Linked DNA regions of Homo sapiens: region 2 is linked to region 1. Evidence: fine-mapped expression QTL. A gene starts in region 1. The other region holds a variant in brackets. All regions are shown on one strand. Distances are between the middles of the regions. Region 1 holds the start of HSP90AA1 (heat shock protein 90 alpha family class A member 1). Region 2 has its middle 11 kb from the start of WDR20.

Evidence for each region. PIP is the estimated chance that this variant, and not a neighbour inherited with it, causes the effect. A credible set is the group of variants that fine-mapping cannot tell apart.
Region 2: its variant is the best candidate, but not a certain one, in a credible set for the expression of HSP90AA1 in fibroblasts (GTEx, PIP 0.54).

The regions. Positions count from the first base shown.
Region 1 is chr14:102,085,486-102,089,485 of GRCh38, forward strand. HSP90AA1 (heat shock protein 90 alpha family class A member 1) reads right to left here and starts at 1,559. Exons shown (of 11, transcript NM_005348.4): 1 at 1,501-1,559; 2 at 732-893; 3 at 273-639. The coding sequence starts at 893. RefSeq lists silencers at 1,147-1,436, 1,477-2,006, 2,067-2,116.
Region 2 is chr14:102,126,612-102,131,128 of GRCh38, forward strand. It overlaps a transcript of HSP90AA1 not described here. Among named protein-coding and RNA genes, the nearest start is that of WDR20, 11 kb to the right of the region's middle. The variant A/G (reference allele first, on the strand shown) is at 2,677.

The sequences.
Region 1 (4,000 bases):
CATGCCTAACACCCTTATAACGTGTCTATAAAGCAAGGTTTGCCGTTACTACAGATGCAAAGGCCACCACAGCAGAACCTTTTGGGCAAGGTGCCTCGCCCAAAAGAACCGCCCACCAAGTCATGCCATTACACTAATTAAGTGCTCTAGCTTGTTCCTGATCGTTGGGCAAACACAAATTCTGTAAGCTTCACCGCATCCCCAGGGGTCCAAGGGTTGCAGCACCCCACCCTTCCACCGCTCACTTAACCAGTGAATGTTCAGGTGCCTACCTGTGTCTGTCCTCACTGTGAATGATCCCCCTGCTGAGGACTCCCAAGCGTACTGCTCATCATCGTTATGTTTGGTGATCACAGTTACTTTCTCAGCAACCAAATAAGCAGAATAAAAACCAACACCGAACTGGCCAATCATAGAGATATCTGCACCAGCCTGCAAAGCTTCCATGAACGCTTTGGTCCCAGACTTGGCGATAGTACCAAGGTTATTGATCAAGTCAGCCTTGGTCATTCCAATTCCAGTATCCACAATAGTGAGAGTTCGATCTTGTTTGTTCGGTATAAGGTTAATATGCAGCTCTTTCCCAGAGTCTAATTTACTGGGATCTGTCAAGCTTTCATACCGGATTTTGTCCAATGCCTGTTAACAAAAAATATTAATTTAAGCATACAGCACCCCCAAGAAGTTCACACTGAAACCAAAATCCGATTCTGGGTTAATAAGTGACTTACATCTGATGAATTTGAAATGAGCTCTCTCAGAAAGATCTCTTTGTTCGAGTAGAAAGTATTGATGATCAATGACATCAACTGGGCAATTTCTGCCTGAAAGGCGAACGTCTCAACCTCCTCCTCCTCCATCGGTTGGTCTTGGGTCTGGGTTTCCTCAGGCATCTGGAACGACACCGCGCCGGTTTAAAACCTTGCAGGACGTCTACAGAGGCAACACGAAATTCCATCGCGTTCTCCAAATATTTTTAAAGCCGAATTGGAGATTTGCGAAGTTTAAGTAAACCGAAAATAGAAGGGCGGCTGACAAAGGATGACCTCATTTCGGAGCGCGGCAACTACCACGAGCGTGTGCGCGCTTCCGGGAGGCCGCCGCAGGCCCGGGCCCAGTCCCCCGCCGCGGTCCCCAACGAACACCCCGGGTGCCCTCCCGCGCGGGCTGCGGCTCCGCCACGGCGGCCTCCTCCGCCTGCGCCCCCAGCGGGGCCGGGCGGGGGACCCCCGCGGCGGGGCCGCTCTGTTCGCGTGCGGCGCCAGCTCTGGCGCTGCTGCAGAGCCTCGGGGAGCCCGCGGCCGCCCGGCCCATTCCTGAAGCGGGGTGCGGAAACCGCAGCGGTCCCGAGGCCTCCGGAATAGAAAGCGCGGCCGCCCGGGAGCGCGGCCCTGGCTGCTTCAGGGATCTGGTCCGGCCCCCACAGCCTCCGCCCCGCGCCAGCCGCCCCCAGTCCCGGTCCCCAGTCCACCTCCACAGGCCCCCACAACCACCCGTCACCTTGGCTAAGTGACCGCACAGGACCAACGGCACAGCCACACCGGGACGCTGAAGCAACTGACGCGCCACCCCCGCGCCTGCCTTATATAGCGACGGGCCCGCCCAGCGCGCGGCGCTTTTTCCAGAAGCCTCCCGAACCTTCCGGAAGAACCCTCCCCAGCCGCCGCCGCGGCCGCGCGCCTACGCATGCGCCGTTGCCGCGGCACCCCGCCCCCGCGCCTTCCTGCGGGCGCGCGCAGGCCCTGCTCGTGGCCCGGCCCGGGCAACCTTCCCTCAATCGCCGCCGCGCGCCTCTCGCACGCCCCCGCGCCGGCCTCAATGCGCCTGCGCGGCCCGGAATTCTCGGGAAGGTCCGGGCGCCTTCTGGGGCCGCCCGCGCCCTCCGCCCTGCACCCCCACCTGCCGCGGGCGGGCGGAGGGCACGCCCGGGCGTGGGGGCCTTTGAAGTGAGGTGTAGTTGGTCACCCGGGCTGAGCGGAACGCGGGGCCGGGGTGGGAGGCGCGCCTGGAGGGAGGGTCGTGCGTGGACGGAGAGCGGCCCGGGTCTCACGCGCCCGGGAGACTTCCGGAGCCGTCGTCCTGACTGGCGCCGCGCCCGCTGCCAAAGAATCCAGCCGCAAGCGGCGCCGGGATCGCGGGGCTCTGCCCTCTGGGGGCTGTTAGCCTCAGGCTGCTGCGCACTGGGGAGGCTGTCCCGCGGCCTGCGCGCTCGGGGATTCTCCAGACCCACCGCTGGCTCGGGAGCGCTCCCTACTTTTGGGTTCCCCGAAAGCCATGTGCTTCATACTTAAGGGTCCCTTAGCTTGGGAATCGGGGACTTGGTGAACAAATTCATGCTTACCCAGCTACACCCGGCATGATTTTGAAAAGCCCATCGTTTTGCCGACCGATTTGCGGTCTCCAAATTAAGTATCTAACACTTTGGTGATTAACTTGCCCTAAAAGGTTTTTTTTTTTTTTTTTTTCTTTTTTTTTTTTTTGGACAGGCTCTCGCTTTGTCGCCCAGGCTGGGGTGCCGCGGCGGAATCTCGGCTCACTGCAGCCTCGACCCTCCCGGGCTCAGGTGATCCTCCCGCCTCAGCTTTCCCAGTAGCTGGGACGAGCGTGGGCAGAGGACCACAGGCGCGGACACCACACCTGTCTAGTTTTTGTATTTATTTGTAGAGTCGGGGTTTCACCATGTTGCCCAGGCTGGAAAAGCCAGTTTCTACATGGGAATTTTCGGATATTTTGGCCAAGGCCAGCTGTGGGAACCTTGGAGGCATTGGGGTTCCTTCGACCTGGCTTCCCTGCCTAGTCCATGTCCTCTTCCTCTTTGTCTCTGGCGCCTCCCATGATTGGGCCGCCTCCTGCCTAGACTCATAGCCAGGCCCTCGGAATAATCTGAAAGCTCCTTGCCGTGTAAAGAAACGATGGAACTACCTCCGCTTCCTGGTCTTTAGGGAAACGCAACTTGCTCAGGAGCAGGGGTTTTCAGACTGCGGCCTGGGACCCCCTTAAGAGCGTGTGAAATCAACATAAAGCGTCTTGCCTGGCATTACAAAGCGGGGGAAGTGGAAGGAAACTAGCAGCCACGTGGCGCGGGCCCCAGCGGTGGTGACCGGGTGTGTGCCTGGTCCTGTGGTAGCTGTTGCGCAGCCTGGGGGCGCGCCCCCGGCCCAGGCTTTCCTACAGCTGCAGCCTGGACTGGCGGGGAGGAATCCGGAAGCAGGAAGAGCGGTGAGCGGGTCGCTGAAGGGGCGCAAGGTCTTCCCTGGCGACTGCCGCCTTTGCCTGTTTCCTTCCTGTCACCACCAGCCACTGTCCCCGCTCTCCTCACTTGTAGGAACTTTTCCTACCGCAGTTTCTGCCATTGCCCAGGGGGTTTGAGATATAGAGGAGCCATCCAGGGCCCTAACTCTGACGTTCTTTTTTTTCTTTTCTTTTTTTTTTTTTTTTAGACAAAGTCTCACTCTTGGTCCCCCAGGCTCGAGGGCAATGGCACAATCTCTGCTCACTGCAACCTGCTCACTGCAACCTCTACCTCCTGGGTTCAAGCGATTCTCCTGCCTTAGCCTCCCGAGTAGCTGGGATTACAGGCACCCACCACTACGCCCGGCTAATTTTTGTATTTTTAGTAGAGACGGGGTTTCACCATGTTGGCCAGGCTGGTCTCGAACCCGTGACCTCAGGTGATCCGCCCGCCTCGGCCTCCCAAAGTGCTGGGATTACAGGCGTGAGCCACGGCGCCCGGCCAGCTCTGACATTCTTTGTCCTTTGTTTTGGGGACCTTCATTTACCCCCATTTCTCCAGTGAACCTGCTCCAAAGCCCCTCCCTGGGTCTGGGCATCACTGGGAACCACTGTTTCCCGTCAGGCCCCATCTTTAATGTCCCTTCTTCCTTCCACAACTTCTTGTCTTTCCAGCTCTCCCCCCTCGGTTAATAAACAGGACATTTTTGTCCTGTCTCCAGGTGACATTCCACAGTTACCCACCAGGTGCGAACTCTGTAATGGTTTC
Region 2 (4,517 bases), 41 kb after region 1:
CCTCCCGGGTTCACGCCATTCTCTTGCCTCAGCCTCAAGAGTAGCTGAGACTACAGGCGCCCGCCACCACGCCCGGCTAACTTTGTTTTTGTACTTTTAGTAGAGATGGGGTTTCACGGTGTTAGCCAGAATGGTCTCGATCTCCTGACCTCGTGATCTGCCCGCCTAGGCCTCCCAAAGTCCTGGGACTACAGGCGTGAGCCACTGCGCCCGGCCGACTAGATTCTTTTAATATCATAAACTGTGTTTTTGTTTTCCCAATCAGTAACTCCTAAAATGAATTTTTAAATTAACAAATGAATCTTACTTCCTGCCACAGGCCCCAGCTACTACTTTACAGCAATCTATGGCTAAAAATCACTGTTTTACTGGCTGCTTCTCAAAAGGCCAATAATGCTGATGAGGCTCTTCAGAGAGTGAGAAGTACTTTTTTTTTTTTTTTAAATCACCTCTTCATAGCCTCCTCCCAATAAGTACTTATAATTATATATAAGTAACAAGTTAATTTTTTCTTTACATATAGCATACTAGCTCTTTAAAAAATCTCATCTTTCCTGTTTCAGGATCTCAGATAGAAAAAAGTTAGGAACTGTTATTGAGGCTATTAAGCTTGAACGTCCTTGCTCTAATCTTTGCAAAGATAAAACCCACAATGCTCATTAAGCTGCTTGGATAAGCTGTTGTTTTACTTCTTACTGGAGGAGCTTAACAATGAAAAACAAAGCTAGCATGAGTTCTATCTACAAAAAGTGATGTCCTAATTTGAATTCAGTTCTAACATACTGTAATAATTCAATTAGTTCTGTGACTGAGGCAGAATGTCCCAGCCTTATGACAGTTCTCTTATTTTCTTCCTGTATTTTCCCTTTATTACTATGGTTTGGAACCCACATTTCAGTCTTATCCCTAGAGTCTAAGATAATTAAAATAGCACACATGGAGTTATATTTATTTGAGGGGGTAGGAGACAGCTGTGACTCTTTCAAGGCTGGGACTGGAGACAGTAAGCAATAGGCAGAGGTGTTTTGTTTTATTATATATATACACATACATTTTTTGAGTCAAGGTCTTGTTCTGTGGCCCAGGCTGGAATGCAGTGTTATGAACACAGCTCACTGCAGCCTCAACTTTCTGGGCTCAAGCGATCCTCCCAACTCAGCCTCCCGAGTAGCTGGGACTACAAGTGTGTGTTGCCACGCCTGGCTAACCTTATTTTTATAGAGACAGGGCCTTGCTATGTTGCCAGGTTGGTTGTGACCTCTTGGGCTCTAGCTATCCTCTTGCCTCGGCCTCCCAAAGTGCTGGGATTATAGGTGTGAGCCACCACACCAGCCATGTTTTGTTTTTAATTGGAGAAAGAAGCAATTCTATTAACAATTACCAACACACTGCCAAACTCTCAAGCAGAAATGAACATTGGTTCTTCTGTGCTGCTCTCTTCTTTGCTCAGCAGGCTCATACTACATGGGAGGAGGCAGTGCAGTGTGGGAGTCTGCCCAGGAGAAACAGTAACTTGCTGCTGGAGCAGGGTGTCCTAGAGGAGACCAGGAATTTGTTACAAGAACATGGTGGAGAAATTGATCTTGAAAAGAAGAGGTGGCTGGGCACGGTGGCTCACACTTGTAATGCCAGCACTTTGGGAGGCCGAGGTGGGTGGATCACTTGAGGTCAGCAATTCAAGACCAGCCTGACCAACATGGTGAAACCCCGTCTCTACCCAAAATACAAAAATTAGGATGGGCGCAGTGGCTCACGCCTGTAATCCCAGAACTTTGGGAGGCCGAGGTGGGTGGATCACCTGAGGTCAGGGGTTCGAGACCAGCCTGGCCAACATGATGAAACCCCATCTCTACTGAAAACACAAAAAATTAGCTGGGCATGGTGGCGGGCGCCTGTAATCCCAGCTACTCGGGAGGCTGAGGCAGGAGATTGCTTGAACCCAGGAGGCAGAGGTTGCAGTAAGCCAAGATCGCACCATTGCACTCTAGCCTGGGCAGTAAGAGCAAAACTCCGTCTCGGAAAAAAAAAAAAAAAAAAAAAATTAGCCGGGTGTGATGGTGCATGCCTGTAGTACCAGCTACTCAGGAAGCTGAGACAGTGAATTGCTTGAACCCAGGAGGCGGAGGTTACAGGGAGCTGAGATCATGCCACTGCATTCCAGCGTGAGCCATATAGCGACACTCCATCTTAAGAAAAAAGAAAGAAAAGAAGAGAAGAGGTACTTCTTCTTTTAACCTAGAAGAATAAGAATGGGTTCAGATAGAGATAAGAAGGGAGGTATAAGTTGGAAGGTAAGAAATGAGAAAGGTTTATGCCTTACGGTGATTCCCAAGTTTTCTTGGTTCTCAGAGCCCTTAGTGTTTCAGAATTTCTTTATGGCGCTCCCTGGACCAATAGAAAAATCTAACAGTTCCATTTACCAGGTACAGTTCAAACAACCTAATAAGTAGTTATGCCTGGATAATTTAGCAGCTGTTTGAAAAATAAATTGAGCACTATAGATAGAGTGGCTCTAGTTTTGATTTTTTTTTTTTTTTTTTTTTGAGACGGAGTCTCACTCTGTCGCCCAGGCTGGAATGCAGTGGGGCAATCTCAGCTCACTGCAACCTCTGCCTCCAGGGTTCAAGCAATTCTCCTGTCAGCCTCCCGAGATTACTACAGGGGATTACTACAGGC[A/G]TGTGCCACCACGCCCACCTGGCTAGGTTTGATTTTTTTTAACTGCACATATAATTCACCCAACGACTATTATTCAGTGGTTTCTGGTATATTCAGAACTGTGCAATTATCACCTCTAAAAGAAACCCTGGGCTCATTAGCAGTCACGACTCCTTCCCTGTCATTTCCCCATCCCTAGGCTACCACAAATCTACTTTCTGTCTCTATACTACATTCCTTTTTTTTTTTTTTTTGAGTTGGAGTCTTGCTGTGTCGCCCAGCCTAAAGTGCAGTGGCTTGATCTCAGCTCACTGCAGCCTCCGCCTCCCGGGTTCAAGCAATTCTCCTGCCTCAGCCTCTCGAGTAGCTAGAATTACAGGTGCACGCCACCATTCCCAGCTAATTTTTGTATTTTTTTAGTAGAGACGAGGTTTCACCGTGTTGGCTAGGCTGGTCTCGAACCCCTGACCATGTGATCTGCCTGCCTTGGCCTCCCAAAGTGCTGGGATTACAGGCGTGAGCCACCACGCCCGACAACTACATTCCTTTCTATCATAGCTGATTAATATTCCATTGTATGGATATACCACATTTTGTTTATCCATTCATTAGTTGATGGGCATTTGGTTTGTTTCCACTTTTTGGCTATTTTGAATAATGCCGCTGTGAACATTCACGTATAAGTTTTTGTGTGAAATTTTTTTTTTGTTTTGTTTTGTTTTGAGATGGAGTCTCGCTCTGTCGCCCAGGCTGAAGTGCAATGGTGTGATCTCGGCTCACTGCAACCTCCGCCTCCTGGGTTCAAGCGATTCTCCTGCCTCAGCCTCCTGAGTAGCTGGGATTACAGGCCCGCACCACCACACCTGGCTAATTTTTGTATTTTTAGTACAGACGCAATTTCACCACGTTGGTGAGGCTGGTCTCGAACTCCTGACCTCATGATCCACCTGCCTCGGCCTCCCAAAACGCTGGGATTACAGACATGAGCCACTGCGCCCGGCCGTGTGAATATGTTTTGATTTCTCTTGGGTATATACATACGATTGGAATTGCTGGGTCCTATGGTAACTGTTGAAACTTTTACGGAACTGCCAGACTATTTTCCATATTGGCTATATTACTTTTCCTTCCTATCTGCAGTACATGGGGGTTTAAATTTCTCCACATTCTCACCAACACTTGTTATTGTTTATCTTTTTGATTATAGCCATCCTAGTGTATATGAAGTGACATCTCCTTGTGGTTTTAATTTGCATTTCCCTGATGGCTAATAATGTTGTGAATCTTTTCACGTGCTCCCTGGCCATTTGTGTAACTTTGCAGAAATGTCTATTCAGATCCTTTGTCCATTCTCTTTTTTTGACAGGGTCTTGCTCTGTTGCTCAGGCTGGTGTGCAGTGGTGTGATCATAGCTCCAGTTTTATAGTTTTAATTCTTACATTTAGGTCTTTAATTCATTCTGAGTTAATTTTTGTTTTTTTGAGACAGGGTCTCCCTCTGTTGCCCAGGCTGGAGTGTAGTGGTGCAATCACAGCTCACTGTAGCCTCAACCTCCTGGGCTCAAGTGATCCTCCTGCCTGAGCCTCCTAGGATTGCTAGAATACACCACCACGCTAATTTTTAAATTTTTTTTGTAGAGACAAGGTCTCACCATATTGCCCAGGCTGGTCTTGAACTTCTGGGTTCAAGTGATCCTCCTGCCTCAGCCTCCCAAGGTATTGGGATTACAGGCATAAGCCACCATGCCCAGCCTATCCAGGCTTTAAATACTACCTATCTGCTGATAACTGCAGAATACAGATGGGCAGCTCAGACCTCTTTCCAGACTTGATTATTCAACTGCCTTCTGGACATTCCCTGTG